Regions from separate parts of the Homo sapiens genome. Here region 2 is linked to region 1. The links come from fine-mapping of genetic effects on gene expression. Tissue or cell type: whole blood. Region 1 holds a variant in brackets; the other region holds the start of a gene. All regions are shown on one strand. Distances are from middle to middle.

Region 1 (8,185 bases):
GTCAATTAGATGATCAGTATGTATTTGTTGAATGAATAAATGAGTTTTGCACATAAATTTCCATTTTTCACAAAAGCAATAAAGGAAAATGTTTTGTATTTTATTCATTTTTTTTCTTAGAAACAGGGTCTCACTATTTTGCCCAAGCTGGACCTGAACTCCTGGGCTCAAGAGATCTTGCACTGCAGCCTCCCAAGTAGCTGAGAACATAGGTGTGTGCAAAGGTGCCCAGCTTGCCCTGCATTTTACTTAAGGCTTAAACCCTTTCAGTTCTCAGTTCTCAGCACAGCATATTTGGTTAGCTGATGAGACAGTAAAACTAGTTTGTTCTCCTGAAAGGAAATCTTAGGGTACAAACATTATAAAAGTAGGTGGAATATAGTTGCAGAACAACTTAACTTCAATTAGCTTAACCTAATTTAATTCATTAAGCTTTACAAACTAATTCTTTAGCTTTTATTTCCTCAGCTGATTAATGCCTGTGGTCCAGATCTTTAAGACATTTTGTTAGCTTTAAATTTCAGTCTTATTTCAGCCTAAAACTCTCTTATATACAACCACCCAACCAGAAATTGGTAGTTTCTTCTGCTGAGGTCTAGGTAGGATGCTTTATCAAGGATACTTCTTCTTGAGCACACATCAATTTAGCTCTTAAAATGCTTCTTTTCTTCTACTCTTCTACTTTGAAAATATTCTCTTTTTTTCCCCCAGAGACAAGGGCCTTGCTATATTGCCCAGGCTAGTCTCAAGGGATCCACCTGCCTCAGCCTTCCAAGTAGGTGGGACTACAAGCATTCACCACCATGCCCAGCTTGCTTTGAAAACTTTCTAAAGGTTACCTCTAATAGATTTGATCAGCTTAACCTAAAATCTGATTAATCTCTTTAAAATATTTCTTCATTTCTTCTATGTTACCTGCAGTGATTTACATATTCAGAACTTTGAGTACAGACTTGTCAGCCACATGCCTGTGCAAATACTGGGGAGTGGGCACTGTCACCCCGTGTGCCTGAAGGGCCTATCTTTGACCCAGGCAGGTGTTGTAGGCCCTCAGGTACAAGAAGGTGTTAGGATGCATGCAGGCCACATATGTCTGTGCAGACTATATTCAGGATATTGAATGTACGGTAGCAACCTGCCAAGAACTGCAGGCCTTTCATGGCAGTATACACACAACCAGGAGTTTTGACAGAAAACATTCTTCTTTACTTTAAGGCTTCAGAAGACCTCACTCGACTGCTTTGTAATTTAGCCAAGTGTTACAGTGTATAGGTTGTTGCCCATGTTGAATTTTTACTTGTATATGATATACAAAAGATAGCTCAGAATTAATCAGTCTTAAATGTAAGAGCTAAAACTATAAAACCCAGAATAAACTACAGCTGAGATCTTGGATTAGACCATGATTTCTTAGATACGACACCAAAAGCACAAGCAACCAAAGAAAATAAATTGGACTTCATCAAAAAGAAAAAATTGGTACTACAAAGGACACCATCAAGAAAGTAAAAAGATACCATAGAATATTTGCAAATCATATATAATGAAATAATTTTATCCAGAATATGTAAAGAACTCTTACAACTCAAAAAAAAGACAAATTGCCCAATTTAAAAATGGACAAAGGATCAGAATAGACATTTCTCTAAGGAAGAGATTCAAATGTACAAAAAGCACATCAAAAGATGCTCAGCATCATCAACTTTACTTCAACTGGAGGCAACTCTCCATCTTCACAGCTCCCCCGGGGGGTCCCTAAGGCCTTGTGTGACTACATTGTAGCCAAATTCTCCTTCTGCCCAGTCTTGCTTTCTTCCCTTCCCAAACAGGTTTTGATCCCAAGAGACTTTGTAATAAACTCCCTGCATGCTAATTTCCATCTCAGGGTGTTCTTCCCAGAGAACTCAACCTGTGACAAATCTTTAGCCTTCAGCAGAAGTACAGGCCCCTAGTAGGGGCAGTTGTACCCAGCTGCTCATATGAGAGGTACTCCAGGTCAGAAAATAGACGATAATAACTGTAGGGATAAAAAGATGGCCAAACCAAGGAGTCTGGCTCAGTGAGTTCATCCAAGCCAGCATCAGAAAAGGCATGGTGTTTGTGCTATCAATCTTCTGTGCCCAGTTCAGGGCCAGCCTTGGGAAAGAGGGGCCCAGTCCTCTGTGTTTTCTGAAACTACCAGGCTGGTTCTGACCTTTATTTCCATTGTAGTTACTAGATTAATGTTATTTCAACGATCCATATATTTCCCATTAGGAGCTTGTTAACATTAATTGAGTTAATATTCATTAACCCTTTTCCCATTTGCCCAGAGAATACTCACCAGCAGCGCTTGCTGCAGCAGCATTTACCTTGAGATAACTTTGCCATGAAATAGCTCACTTTCATTATTATTTTCTTTCTTTCTTTCTTTCTTTATTTTTTCTTTATTTTTATTTTTTAAGACAGAGTCTCGCTCTTGTCGCCCAGGCTGGAGTGCAGTGGCGTGATCTCGGCTCACTACAAGCTCCACCTCCCGGGTTCACGTCATTCTCCTGCCTCAGCCTCCCGAGTAGCTGGGACTACAGGCAACCGCCACCACTCCCGGCTAATTTTTTTTGTATTTTTAGTAGAGACGGGGTTTCACCGTGTTAGCCAGGATAGTCTCGATCTTCTGACCTCGTGATCTGCCCGCCTCGGCCTCCCAAAGTGCTGGGATTACAGGCGTGAGTCACCGTGCCCAGCCTCATTATTATTTTCACACTGCTCTAGTATATCAACTCTGTAAACAAAAGACATCTTTCAGGCTGACAGTGGTGACTCACGCCTGTAATCCCAGGACTTTGGGAGGCCAAGGTGGGCAGATCACTTGAGGCGAGGAGTTCAAGACTAGCCTGGCCAGTGTGGTGAAACCTCATCTCTTCTAAAAAATACAAAAACTAGCTGAGCGTGGTGGTGTATGCCTGTAATCCCAGCTACTTGGGAGGCTGAGGCATGAGAATCGCTTGAACCCAGGAGGCGAAGGTTGCAGTGAGCTGAGATGGCGCCCCTGCACTCCAGCCTGGGTGACGGAGGGAGACTCTGTCTTAAAAAATTAAAAGAAAAAAAGACATCATTCTATTTATAACATTCTGTTTTTAGTAATGGCATTTCCATTTACAAAATGTAGTAATTCTCTATGGCTAAAAAGGCTAAAAATGTCAAATCCTAGAATACATAGCATTCTTATGCACGATGTTAATTAACATTGTTATTGGACAATTGTTGGCTGAAGATTCATTTGATGAATCCGATTTTTCCAAAATAGATGATTCTGATAATTCAGATGATTCTGTTGTTACTTCTGTTTAGAAATAACTCCAAGAACAGTTTTTATATTTTGTTTTCGCATTGAAAATCATCAGATTTGCTTCAGCCTCAAAGAGGGTGTTTATGGAAAATTAAATGAGAGCACTGGCAGAGAGCTGCACTTTTTCTTTCTAAATGGTAAATTGACCATGTTTTATCAAATAAATATTTTAGAAAATGTACTGTAGATTTATTGTCTTCGTGTGCTATGATCTGCACTAAGGCCTGATGAAAATATTTTACTCTGTATAAAAATCGAGGTCTATGAACAGAGATGGGTTCTGCCCCTTTCTTTTCTGCAAGGATTTGAAGTTGACATAGGGACTTTGATCCCAGGGTCCAACATAGATCAAACATTTTGTCCATAAAACCAGGCTAGTTGGGGTGAGGAATAGTGGCAATAAAACTTTTGTAACCAGCTTGCCTCTGAGCGATGGGAGAATGATCTAGGCCAGGGTTTGTGTAGGATGGAGGCTGAAGAAAACCAGTGCAACAATAAGGAACCATTTCTCCAAGCCCAAGCGGGCAGGTAGAGCCTGGTGCAGGTTAGATTTATAGCCCAAATCAGAGTAAAATGGCAGGGATGTCTAGACAGGAAGTGTCTAAAAGTTACCTTTATCATCTTTGATTTCTAGTGTCTGTACAGTGTATAACATTTATTATATGAATTACTGAATAAGAGTCTGAGTGAGCATGTTCATCTTTCTTGCCACCATACTCCAGGGTTTAGACGAGCATATCATGAAAAGTGATCTGAGAATAAAAGACACTATTCTTAGCATAAAAAAACTTCAAGTGACACTTTTCGGTAAAAGCTCAATTTCATTTGGGCCTTCCTTGGTTCCATTATTATTATTATTATTATTATTTGAGATGGGGCCTTGCTCTGTCACCCAGGCTGAAAGTGCAGTGGCGTGATCATGGCTCACTGTGGCTTTCACCTTTAGCCTCCAGAGTAGCTGGAACCATAGGTG[C/T]GTGCCACCACATCCAGCTAATTTACTTATTTATTTATATATATTTTTTGGTACAGATGAGGTCTCACTATGTTGCCCAGGTTGGTCTCAAATTCCTGGGCTCAAGCCAACCTTTCACTTTTGCCTCCCAAAGTGCTGGGATTACGGGTGTGAGCCACCATGCCTGGCTGGTTCCATTATTCATTTCTAGAGATGAAACAAGCAGAATGGGGTAGAATATTTAGATGGGGATATATCATAGTTTGTTGAAAGGAAGGACAGTGTTTTCAATTTAATTTTCCTTTAATTTTTGGCAATGCCCAATCTTCTATTGGCATATTGGCTGTAACCATTGAGGATTATTATTTTAGAGGAGTAGTTAATAATGACTTATCATTATCCTCTAAATACATTTTAAATGAAAGTACCTTGCTTTTGTTCGTGCTGAAACTCATGTGACACATTTTTCTCAACCTCCCTGTCTTATAATAACTTCCTCTGATTTATCCTCATGCATTTGGGTTTTCATCTCAAAGAAGAGCTGAGTGTCATCTACATTCCACTTTCTGCCTTCAAGTCTCATTTTCTTCATCTGTAAAATAGGATAATAATACATTACTCATAATTACTCATAGGATCGTTGGGAAGATTAAGCAATAAATCCATGTAAAATGCCTAGCATAATGTCTGATGTATAGTGGCATTCAAGAAATGTAAATTACATTTCTCTCTGTTATTGGGTCCTTTGATGATTGAATATGCCCACTGTTTTCTATTTTCTTTTTCTTTTGTTTTGTTGTTAGAACAAGATAAAACTCCTTGATAAACTGCAGACATATTCAACGGTTATTAGCGCTAACCATATGGGCATCAACATTCAGAATTAGAACAATGTAATAATATTGACCTAGTATTCAGTTAGCAATATTGACATACAGAAGATTGAGACCACCCTGGCTAACACGGTGAAACCCTGTCTCTACTAAAAATACAAAAAATTAGCCGGGCATGGTGGCGGGCACCTGTAGTCCCAGCTACTTGGGAGGCTGAGGCAGGAGAATGGTGTGAACCCCAGAGGCGGAGCTTGCAGTGAGCCGAGATTGTGCCACTGCACTCCAGCCTGGGCCACAGAGTGAGACTCCTTCTCAAAACAAATTAAATAAATAAACAAATAATAATAATAATGTTGACCTAATATTAGGTTGACCTATTAGTTTCAGATAAAGTTAGAGTTAGGTCAATATACATTACAACTAAGTTTAGGAATTAATCAATACGTAACTTCTCAGGATCTTCTCTCTTCAACTTTAGACAGGTTTTGATTAAATTAGTCAACAGAAAACTTTAAATATATTGAAATTTAGAAGTACATAAAAACTTGTAAATAAGCAACATTAGTTATGTTTAAAATAATCCTTTTGTCCAGGCACTGTGGCTTAGACTTGTAATCCCAGTACTTTGGGAAGCTGAGGTCAGTGGATCACTTAAGGCCAGGAATTCAAGACCAGCCTGGCCAACATGGTGAAACCCCAACTCTACTAAAAATACAAAAATTAGCTGGTTGTGATGGCGCACACCTGTAATCCCAGCTACTTGGGAGGCTAGGGCATGAGAATCACTTGAACCCGGGAGGTGGAGGTTGCAGTGAGCCAAGGTCTCGACACTGCACTCTAGCCTGGGTGACAGAGCAAGACTCTGTCTCAAAAATAAATAAATAAATACATAATAATAATCCTTTTATCCTTTTGTATAATCCATGTGCTATCCCCTGCTTTTTTTTCTTTTTTTCAAGCTTGTGGGAAGTGGTATGATTATGGACAGGCTATCAAACTTCTAAAAATGAGTTTTCAAACAACCTTTGTAGCTGGAATTAGATAGTTTGGTACCGATCATGCCTTGGCTACTATTAAAATTTCTAAAAGGGGCCAGCCTCAGTGGTTCACACCTGTAAGCCCAGCACTTTGAGTGGCCAAAGCAGGCAGATCATTTGACGTCAGGCGTTCAAGAACAGCCTGGCCAACATGGTGAAACCTTGTCTTTACCAAAAATATTAAATAACTTTTAAAATTGCAAAAACCACAGTTACTTTTGCATCAACCTATACAAAAACTAGCCAGGCATGGTGACACGTGCCTGTAGTCCCAGCTACTTGGGAGGCTGAGGCAGGAGAATCTCTCGAACGCAGGAGGTGGAAGTTGCAGTGAGCCAAGATCACGCCACTGCACTCCATCCTGGGCAACAGAGTGAGACCCTGTCTCAAATAATAATAATAATTGTTATCATCATCATCATCTAAAATGTTATAATCCCTAAAGATCTCCACATCTGATTCTCATATTTTGTAAGTTGCATCTGCACTGCCAGTAAGGTTTTGCTTTCAAATTGTTTAGTTTTGTTTTTGAGTCTTCAGACTTTAAAAAAATTAAACAAGTTATACTACACTGTGTTTGAAAAGAAAAAGAATATAAATGAAAAGGGAAGCCATAAATATCAGTCAACAGACATAGTTGAGAAATTTGGGGAACTCTAGGTCTATACAACTTTCCTAGATTGAACCCTGTAGTCTCAATTGATTTCAATGAGAATTTTTTGTCAAGTGAGGGATGATAATTTTTATATAGATCTCATTCTTACTTTTCCAAGTTTTCACTTTAATTCTGTAGTGGACTCAGTGTGGGTAATAGGCATATTAGATTCCACAAAATTGTGAAAGTTATTGGTCTGGATTTTATTTTAGAGTGCCAACTGTTGTGGTATTCACTTCTGTTTGAATCAACTATAGCGTATAATGTCAAAACAATACATTGGAACCAATAGCTCCCAGGGTAAAAATTATCCGTGTACAGATGGTGGGCAAGAGTGATTACTTAAATTCTAGATATATAAATACCATAAGTACATATTCAGAGTTATGAATGGAGTAAGGATTCCCACAGTATTAATCTAACTTCAACAAGCCACGCAAATAGAGTGAAACACAATCTGTTCTATACATTTTGCACACTCTCAATTGCTGTAACATGAGAAATGGTATTTTAAGGGTAGAAACCCTCAACTGCTTTGAGACCACAAAAGTCCATCAGTTTACAGCTGGAGGCTTCTATCTATTCAGAATGTTTGGTACTCTTACAAACAGTAGCCCCACCGTTAAAATTAATAGATTTTGTATCCTAGGGGGCAAAGTTCTTTAAAGTCATGACATGACTTTTGCTTTGGCCTTGATTTTCCTTTTATTTCTAAGGAGTTTCTGTAAAAGGATTCCTTTGTTAACATATACCATTTTCGTTATAATATAACATTAGTTTTTCCTCTGTATTTTCACAAAAGCAAAAAAAAAATTGTACAAGCCAATACTTATCCCTAAAATATATTTTTCTGATTACAAAGTATTGATGTTATTTCTGAAAAAATATAAAAAGTATAAAACAAAAAATAAAAATTACTCATAATACACATAGAGAATAACATTTTGGTGTCCATATTCCCATATAAAACACAGTCATATGTTGCTTAACGACAGGGTACAGTCTGAAAAAAGCATTGTTTGGTGATTTTGTCCTTGTGTGAACATCATAGAGTGCACTTACACAAACCTACATGGTAGAGCCTACTACACACTTAGGCTATATGGTATAGCCTATTGCTATACCATAGCACCATATAGGACTATGAATTGTCCTATAACTAAATATGGTACTAAGAACATAGAAGACAATAAATGCTTCAATTTATGATAATTAGGCATTGAGCAAAACTCTGATTTTCTATACCAGTTCTTCACAAGATGCCTATTAAATTGAGTTGAAACATTGATGGGATTGGTGTCTGCAAGAAATATTCTGGAAATACTAAATTTTATAATTTAATGTTAATAGGCTTTTAGTGTTGAGAGTAATGTATTTCTT
Region 2 (8,185 bases), 33 kb before region 1:
AAAACACTGAAGTTGGACCCCTACCTCACACCATATATAAAAAATTGACTCAAAATAGATGACGGACCTAAATGTAAAAGCTAAAACTATAAAGCTCTTTAGATACGGCATCAAAAGCATAAGCAAAAAAAAAAGGAATAAATTGAACTTTATCAAAATTAAGAATATTTGTGCTTAAAAGGACACCATCAGGAAAGTGAAAAGATAATGCACAGGATGGGGGAAGAAAAGTCTGCAAATCATATCTGATAACAGGCTTGTATCCAAGAATAAAAAGACAGTCCCATTTTTTAAATGAGCAAAAGACTTAAATAGACAGTTCTCCAAAGAAGGTATACAAATGGCCAACAAGTATGTGGAAAGATCCTCAATATAATTAGCCATAAGTGAAATGCAAATCAAAACCACAATGAAATACCAATTCAAACCCTAGGATGGTTATAATCAAAAGATAGACAATAATAAGTATCAGTGAGGATGTGGATAAACTGGTGAGATAATCACTCACCAGATAATCGCTAGTGAGCTTGTAGAATGGCACAGCCTCTTTGAAAAACAGTTTGGCAGTTCCTCAAAACACTAATCCGAGTTATCATCTGACCCAGTAATTTCACTCCTAGATATGTGTACCCAAGAGAAATGAAAACATGTTCACCCAAACCCTATACATGAATGATCACTGCAGCATTACTTACAATAGTCAAAATGTGGGAACAACCCAAATGTCCATCAACTGATGACTAGACAAACAAAAAAAGGTATATTCATATAATGAAATATTATTTGACCCTAAAAAGATATGAAGTGACTATAAATGCTACAACATGGCTGTTCCATGAAAACATTAACGATATAGTTTGGATTTTGTGTGCCCGCCCAAATATTCCGTCAAATTGTAACCCCCAACATTGGAGGAGGCCCCTGGTGGGAAATGACTAGATCATGCAGGCAGATTTTCCCCCCTGCTGTTCTCATGATACTGAGTTCTCTGGTTGTTTAAAAGCATGTGGAGCCGCCCCCATCTCTAATCCTCCTGCTGTGGCCACTTCAAGGGGGCCACTTCAACAGGAAGTTTCCTGAGGCCTCCCCAGCCATGCTTCCTGTATGGCCTGTGGAACCGTAAGCCGATCAAAATTATTTTCTTTATAAATTACCCAGTCTCAGTTATTTCTTCATAGCAGTACAAGAATGGACTAATATAGTCATGCTAAGTGAAGGAAGCCAGACATAAAAGGCCACATATTGTACTACTCCATTTACATGAAATGTCCAGAACAGGCAAATTTATAGACACAGAAGGTAGATTAGTGGTTGCCAGAGGATAGTGGATAGGTGAAGGGGACTGACTGTTAATGGATTAAGATTTTCTTTTCTTTTTGGGATGATGAAAATATTCTGAAATTAGGTATGGTGATGGCTGCACAACTTTGTGAGTATACTAAAAAAAATCACTGAACTGTACACCTTCAAAGAATGCATGTGAATTATGTACATATAACTATAGTATATAAATTATATCTCAATAAAACTTATTAACAACTGTACAGTTAAGATTTGTGCATTTCAATATATGTAAACTTCACCTAAAAATAAACCTTTAAAAAATAATAAAAACAATGGGCTGGGCACAGTGGCTCAATCCCAACACTTTAGGAGGCCACAGCAGGAGGACTGCTTGAGGCCAAAAGTTCATGACCAGCCTGGGCAACACAGTAAGATCCCGTCTCCACAAAAAAAATTAAAAATTTAAAAATTAGCCAGGTGTGGTGGTGTGCACCTGTAGTCCTAACTACTCGGCAGGCTAAGGCAGGAGGATCACTTCCGCCCAAGAGTCTGAGGCAGCAGCAAGTTATGATAGCACCACTTCACTCCAGCCTGGGTGACAGAGCAAGACCTTGTCTCTTTTTACAGAAAAAAAAAAAAAAAAGAATGGTTACATAAAAGCTCACTATTCTATTCTGCTCACTTTGTATTATGTTTGAAATATTCCTTAAGTTTTTTCTACCAAAGTGTAAAAACAAAGTAATTTTTTTAAACAACAAAACGTTCCTAATATCCATTTTTTGTTGTTTTTTGACACAGAAGCAGAATCTTATATTTTAAAAAGACTAGAGAGGTCACTATCTTTCATTATTCTATTGCAATGTTATATGAAAACAGAAATATGACAGAAGACATGGTATGTGGTAAAAATGAATACTTCATCTTAAATGTACAAAAAGAATCTGAACTTCCTCAGTTCTCAGGCATTTCCTCATCCTTGGATTCCTGTGGTTTCCATGGTTAATGAATGTAACAATTCCTCAATACATGGATGCAATAACCCCTACTACTGTGCTGTCCAATACAGTAGCACTGCTACATATGGCCATTTAAATTTTAGTTTTAATGAATTAAATTATAAATTCACTTCTTAGTCTCACTAGTTACATTTCTAGAGTTCAATACCCACATGCAGCTAGTGGCTACTGTACTGGATACAGCAGATATAGAACACTGCCATCACTGGAGAAATTTCTACTAGATAGCACTACTCTAACATATAAGAAATATCCACAGGGAAACTTTTACATTCCAATTTAGGATGGTTATACTGGATTTCACAGCAATAAACAAATTTTCCTGAAGAACAGGGAAAACAAAGTACAAAAATATTAACCATCAAAGATCGTTCATGGAAGTGTCGACTAACTAAAACAGCAGTTAAGTTTTACTTTCAGAACCATCAAGCTACAGATGTTGGTCATGGCAACTCCTCAGAGGCAAATTTCTCTGTTAAAATATAGATTAACAATATACTGTCAGTTTCCTCAAGTCAGATGTAAAGATTATGCTGAAAAATGATTAAAGCAAATTATCCTTCAAAGATCCCACAAAAAGGAATATTTATAATCCATGAAATCAAAGAGTTAATGACCCACAGTAAAATACACAGAATGTCTTTCCTAACAGAGCTTTGAGGCAACGGGGATGATTTAAAGAACTATTAAATATAATTGTGTCATCTAGAAAAAAGGCTTAACAAGATGATTTCTGTACAACTAGTTCTAAAACTGTGTATGCATTTCATCCTGATAGTTACACATTTCCGTTAATACCCACTAACATTATAAATGTAGTATCAGGAAGCAGGTGTGTTCTTAATTCAAATATTTAGAACATTTTTAGCACTTTAAAAAACTGCAGGTGAACTAATTTTAAAATGTGAATTCAAATACATTTTTATATTTAGGAATCTGAAAAAACAAGTCATTTTGTATTCCCTCTCAAGTTATAACTAAACTATAGGGCACTTAAAGCCATCAGTCAAAACAACTCCCTTTAAAGCATTTTCAAATCTTAAAAAGGTTATTGTGAATTTAATTACATTTTATCCACATTAACTACTTCTACATACAACTATCTTTGAAATTTACTGACAAAAAAAAAAAAAAAAGGAATTCCCAAGAGAGAATGAAACCATGGAAATTGAAACCAGCTTGTAGGCTAGGTATACAGGAGGGTCACATGGAATCCATCTGAAGGAGAAAGTAACTACTATTACTACCGGAGGTTCTGAAGTCAAATTAAATCAGGTACTATTTACATATTTCTAGCTCTGTACTGACCTCACATGGTGCCTTCCTATGTATTACACACAGGCCTAGCTAGGTTTTCACATTTAAGTTAGTGTTACATGGTTTCTATCTTTAACCAAAGTTAAATGTTTTAAAGAATAGAGTAACATTCCATAAGCCTTTTCCCATTGTTCACAAACCCTTGCTGTTAGTCAGATTACCCCGATAAATCCATCTGTTCCCTCTAATTGCTTCCAAAGAAAAATTCTAGCAACCAAGGACACCAGATTGTAAAACACAGAGTTAGAGTTCTGGCACTACCGAAATATGTTAAGAAATCTTGGCAAATTGGTTAAAATTCCTTGAGCCGTAATTACCTCAGTTGTAAAAATGAATACAATACAAATCTACATCCTAGACGTAGATTATATGAGTTAGGTTTAATTAAACACAAGAAAAGCCTCATATTTTTGGTGAGCTCCAAATATAAGCTACCTAGCTTTCCCCCATCTCACTTTCCCTCCCACCGCTTCCCTTTAAGCTTTCAGGTTGTGCTTCCAACCTCCACTTCAGTGTGTTCCCCTTATCCTTACCAGCACTTACACTCGACCCCCTTTACTCCAATTCCATACAATTCCACCCTCCGATTCCAAGCTGCTACTTCCCTTTGCGCACTGCTAAGGTCCCAGGCAGCCCTCCACTCTGCTCCCCACATTTCCCTCAGCCCCCATTTCCCAACGGCTCCTCCTCTCGGCTCCCCACCCCCTCGTCACCAGGTTCATCCTGCCCCTCCAACCGTCTCCCGCCCCCAGGTTCCTTCCTGCCCTCCAAACACAGCTTCCCCGTCTCAACGTTTCATCTTGTTCCTCCAACAGACTCCCCCAACGACCTCCTCGCTCCTTTAGTCCCTATTTTCTCCCAACACTCAACTGACTACTCCTCTTCATCCATTCTTTTCAATATACACATAAATGCAAAGGCACCCACATACAGGAGCCCCCACCCCCACCTTGGTCCTCCATCTTTCCCTTTTATACTTGCTTCCTTTCTTCCTCCTTCCCCCAACCCCCATCTCCTCCGGAAGAGTCGGTTCCCAGGCCAAGGTCTCTCACCTCATTCGGTCACTTCAGTGGTGCCAACCGCTTCATACAGGAAAAAACAACCAATCCGTCCCCGTGGGCGCTTCCCCTGCGAGTCCGAGCACTTACTGGGCACCCGCCCCACCGGGTACCCGGCACATATGCACGCACAAACCGAGGTCCTTGGAGACAAGGGTTGGGGGTAGAATGAGCGTTCTTACACCGGCCTCAAACACAGCCCACTTCAATACAGCCCCTCGCCATTTTGGTTTCCCGCGGACTGCCGGTGCATTCTGGGAGCGCGGAGCGACTCCGGTGCCGAATGGCAGCTCTCCAAAGCCGCGGGGGGGCAGGGACTGCGCGGCGAGCGCGGAGGAACACCGCGCCCTGCGTCCCCGACTGGGGCTGAACAAAGAAGGACTCTTTAACGTTGCAGTGAGGCTCAGTCCTTCCGCCGCCGGGGCTAACACAATAGTGAAAGCTGCGCTCCTGATCGTCGGCAGGCTGGCACTGTTATACAGGAAAAGGGTCGTGTGCGACCTTCGGTGTGCGTGGTCGTAACGGTGCTCTGTGCATCTTGCTGGGCCGATTTCTTTTCCCTGGAGAAAACCTTAACTGAAGCACGTTTCCTCTACTTTCATCCTAAGGCCTGCTGTTAGAATTTCCTTCAGAGGGGAGAAGACCCAGGATGTCGAGATTAAATTTTATTCAGCGATTCACTGTCCAGTCCCAAACTCCTTATCAGGAGCTGCTTTTATGAAAGACTTTCAGACGATTTTTTTCCTAACGATGAAAGGTTGTTTTCTGTTTACCCGCTTTGCAGTCCTTCCTAGTTGTAATGAAATCTGAGAATAGTCCCCTGCAAAATGGTTTAAGAAAACAGAATTGTTTATTAGTGCAGACCCTTAGCCTGCCCAGATTCTGCTGCCTACAGGGGTCCCAACTGACAAGCTGTGAGATTGTATGCTTGTCTCTTTAACTTACACCTAGATACAACCCAGCTCCTCTTAGTAGCCACGTGTGGAATCTTTATTTATAATTTCGTCAAAATATTTTTAAAGCCATTTTATATTTTTGTCCCATATTATGCCACAGGGATAGTGAACACCATATTTTTTCTGTCTCTGAAAAAGTACCTTTTGTGGTCTAAGCTCATTTGGCTCATACTTCAAAAGGGGTTCCCTCAGCCTGTGATCTCAGAATTTGGCAAATAAGCATATTCGTTTTATCCAATACCATTCAATACTTTAAATATTGTGGTCATACCCTTCCACTCCTCTGCTTCTCCTGAATAATAGTCCTAATCTTTTAAGTCTGTCTTCTTACTGTACCCTCACTGTATCTACTTACCTACTACCTTTCAGGTTTCACTTTATTTCAATTCTCATCATCGTCTCTCATAAATTCGTCTTAAGTGACCTTCATACGTTGGCTGAGGAAAATTTTGACTTAAAAAAAGCAGATGCAGCCGGGCGCGGTGGCTCACACCTGTAATTCCAGCACTTTGGGAGGCCGAGACAGGCAGATCACCTGAGGTCGGGAATTCGAGACCAACCTGATCAACTTGGAGAAACCCCGTCTCTACTAAAAATACAAAAATTAGCCAGGTGTGGTGGCACATGCCTGTAATCCCAGCTACTCGGGAGGCTGAGACAGGAGAATCGCTTGAACCCAGGAGGCAGAGGTTGTGGTGAGCCAAGATCGTGCCATTGCACTCCAGCCTAGGCAACAAGAGCAAAAACTCCATCTCAAAAAAAAAAAAAAAAAAGTAGATGCATTCCCATTCAGGAACGTGGCATTAAGGTAAATAAATAAATAAAATATTAAAAAGTAGATGCAGTACAAAAATTAATAAAGATATTGCACAAACAGATATATTTGCTGTGCAGCTAAGCCTAATCAGAGAACATCTGTTTTGGAGAACGTTTGGTCTAAGTTTTCCTCAACATTTCTGTAAAGTGGTCACCAAGCCTCAACTTCAAAATCTTCAGTGATTCAATACTTCAGACGCATTCATTTCCACCTCAGAAACTCTAATAATTTAGGCTCTTTGGCTACACAAAAGTATTCTAATCCCTTATACATTAGAGAAGTAAATTATGCCTCTATCAAAAAAAAGTGTTATTTTTCTGTGCAAACGTGTGAGTACAAAGGTGTAAGCAAACCAAGTGTTCAGAGATTTAAGGACACTCAGGGAGTCACAGTCAAGTATAAAGAATACCTGTCAGCCAGCCACCAGCAACTCACTCCTGTAATCCCAGTACTTTGAAAGGCCAAGGTAGAAGGATCACTTGAGCTGGGGAGTTCCAGACCAGTATGCAGTCTGAGCCACATAGTGAGACCCTGTCTCTACAAAAAATTTAAAAATTAGCTGGGCCCCTGCCTGTAGTCCCAGCTATTCAGGAGGCTGAGGTGGTAGGCTTACTTGAGCCACAGTGAGACTGCCTCAAAAAAAAAAAAAAAAAAAAAAAAAACCTGCTGTAGTTGTGGTTCCTCGGAAATATAGAGTGAACTCTGATCAGAGTAAACTGTACCCTTTATTGTTGTATGTATTTCTGTGATCATCCTTAGGGTGGTTCATAAGTATTCTGGTTCCCCTCTCTTCCAGACACATAGTAAAATTGCACTCTGGCCGGGCGCGGTGGCCACGCCTGTAATCCCAGCACTTTGGGAGGCTGAGGGGGGCAGATCACTTTAGGCCAGGAATTCCAGACTAGCGTGGCCAACATGGCAAAACTCTGTCTCTACTAAAAATACAAAAATTAGCCGGGCGTGGTGGTGCATGCCTGTAATCCCAGCTATTTGGGAGGCTGAGGCAGAGAATCACTTGAACCCAGGAGGCCGAGATTGCAGTGAGCCAAGATTGCACCGCTGCACTCCAGCCTAGGCGACAGAGGGAGACTCTGTCTCGAAGAAAAAAGAAAAAAAAATTTGCACTTTCTTGCACCCCTGAAGTTAATTGCTTTGACCAATAAAATGGGTGACATGTATCACTTCTCAGGAGAATCTTTAAGAAGCAGAGACACATCTCCCTCCCCCATGCTATGGTAATCATGGAAGCTTGGGTTGAGATAGAATGTCTGTCGCTTTCAGTTCCTAAATGTCTACAATAAGCAGTGACTAGAATTGTGCAATCATCACCACAATCCACGTTTAAAACATTTCCATCACCCCCAAAAAATTCATTATGCGCATTTGCAGTCAACCCTCCTTCCAAGCCCTAGGCAATCTGCTATCTGCTTTCTGACAATTTCATATAAATGGTTTCATACAATAAGTAGTCTTTTGCATCTGGGTTCTTTCACTCAGAATATTTTTTAGGTTCATCTACGTTGTACCAGTCAGTAGTTATTTCTTTTTATTGCCAAATAGACTCCATTTGAATGAATGTACTACATTTTGTTTATCCATTCGCCAGTTGAAGGACATTTATGTTGTTTTCAATCTGGGGCTATTATAAATAAGACTGCTATGAACATTTGTGTACAAATCTTTGTATGGACATTCGTTTTTTATTTTTCTTGAGTAGATCCCTAGAAGTGGAATTAC

What was found. PIP is the estimated chance that this variant, and not a neighbour inherited with it, causes the effect.
Region 2: MTF2 starts here. The variant in region 1 is fine-mapped to the expression of MTF2 in whole blood (INTERVAL, PIP 0.98).

Annotation. Positions count from the first base shown.
Region 1 is chr1:93,043,366-93,051,550 of GRCh38, reverse strand. No RefSeq gene overlaps it. Among named protein-coding and RNA genes, the nearest start is that of MTF2, 32 kb to the left of the region's middle. The variant C/T (reference allele first, on the strand shown) is at 4,302.
Region 2 is chr1:93,076,016-93,084,200 of GRCh38, reverse strand. MTF2 (metal response element binding transcription factor 2) reads right to left here and starts at 4,918. Exons shown (of 15, transcript NM_007358.4): 1 at 4,670-4,918. The coding sequence starts at 4,674. RefSeq lists enhancers at 4,875-5,169, 5,106-5,355.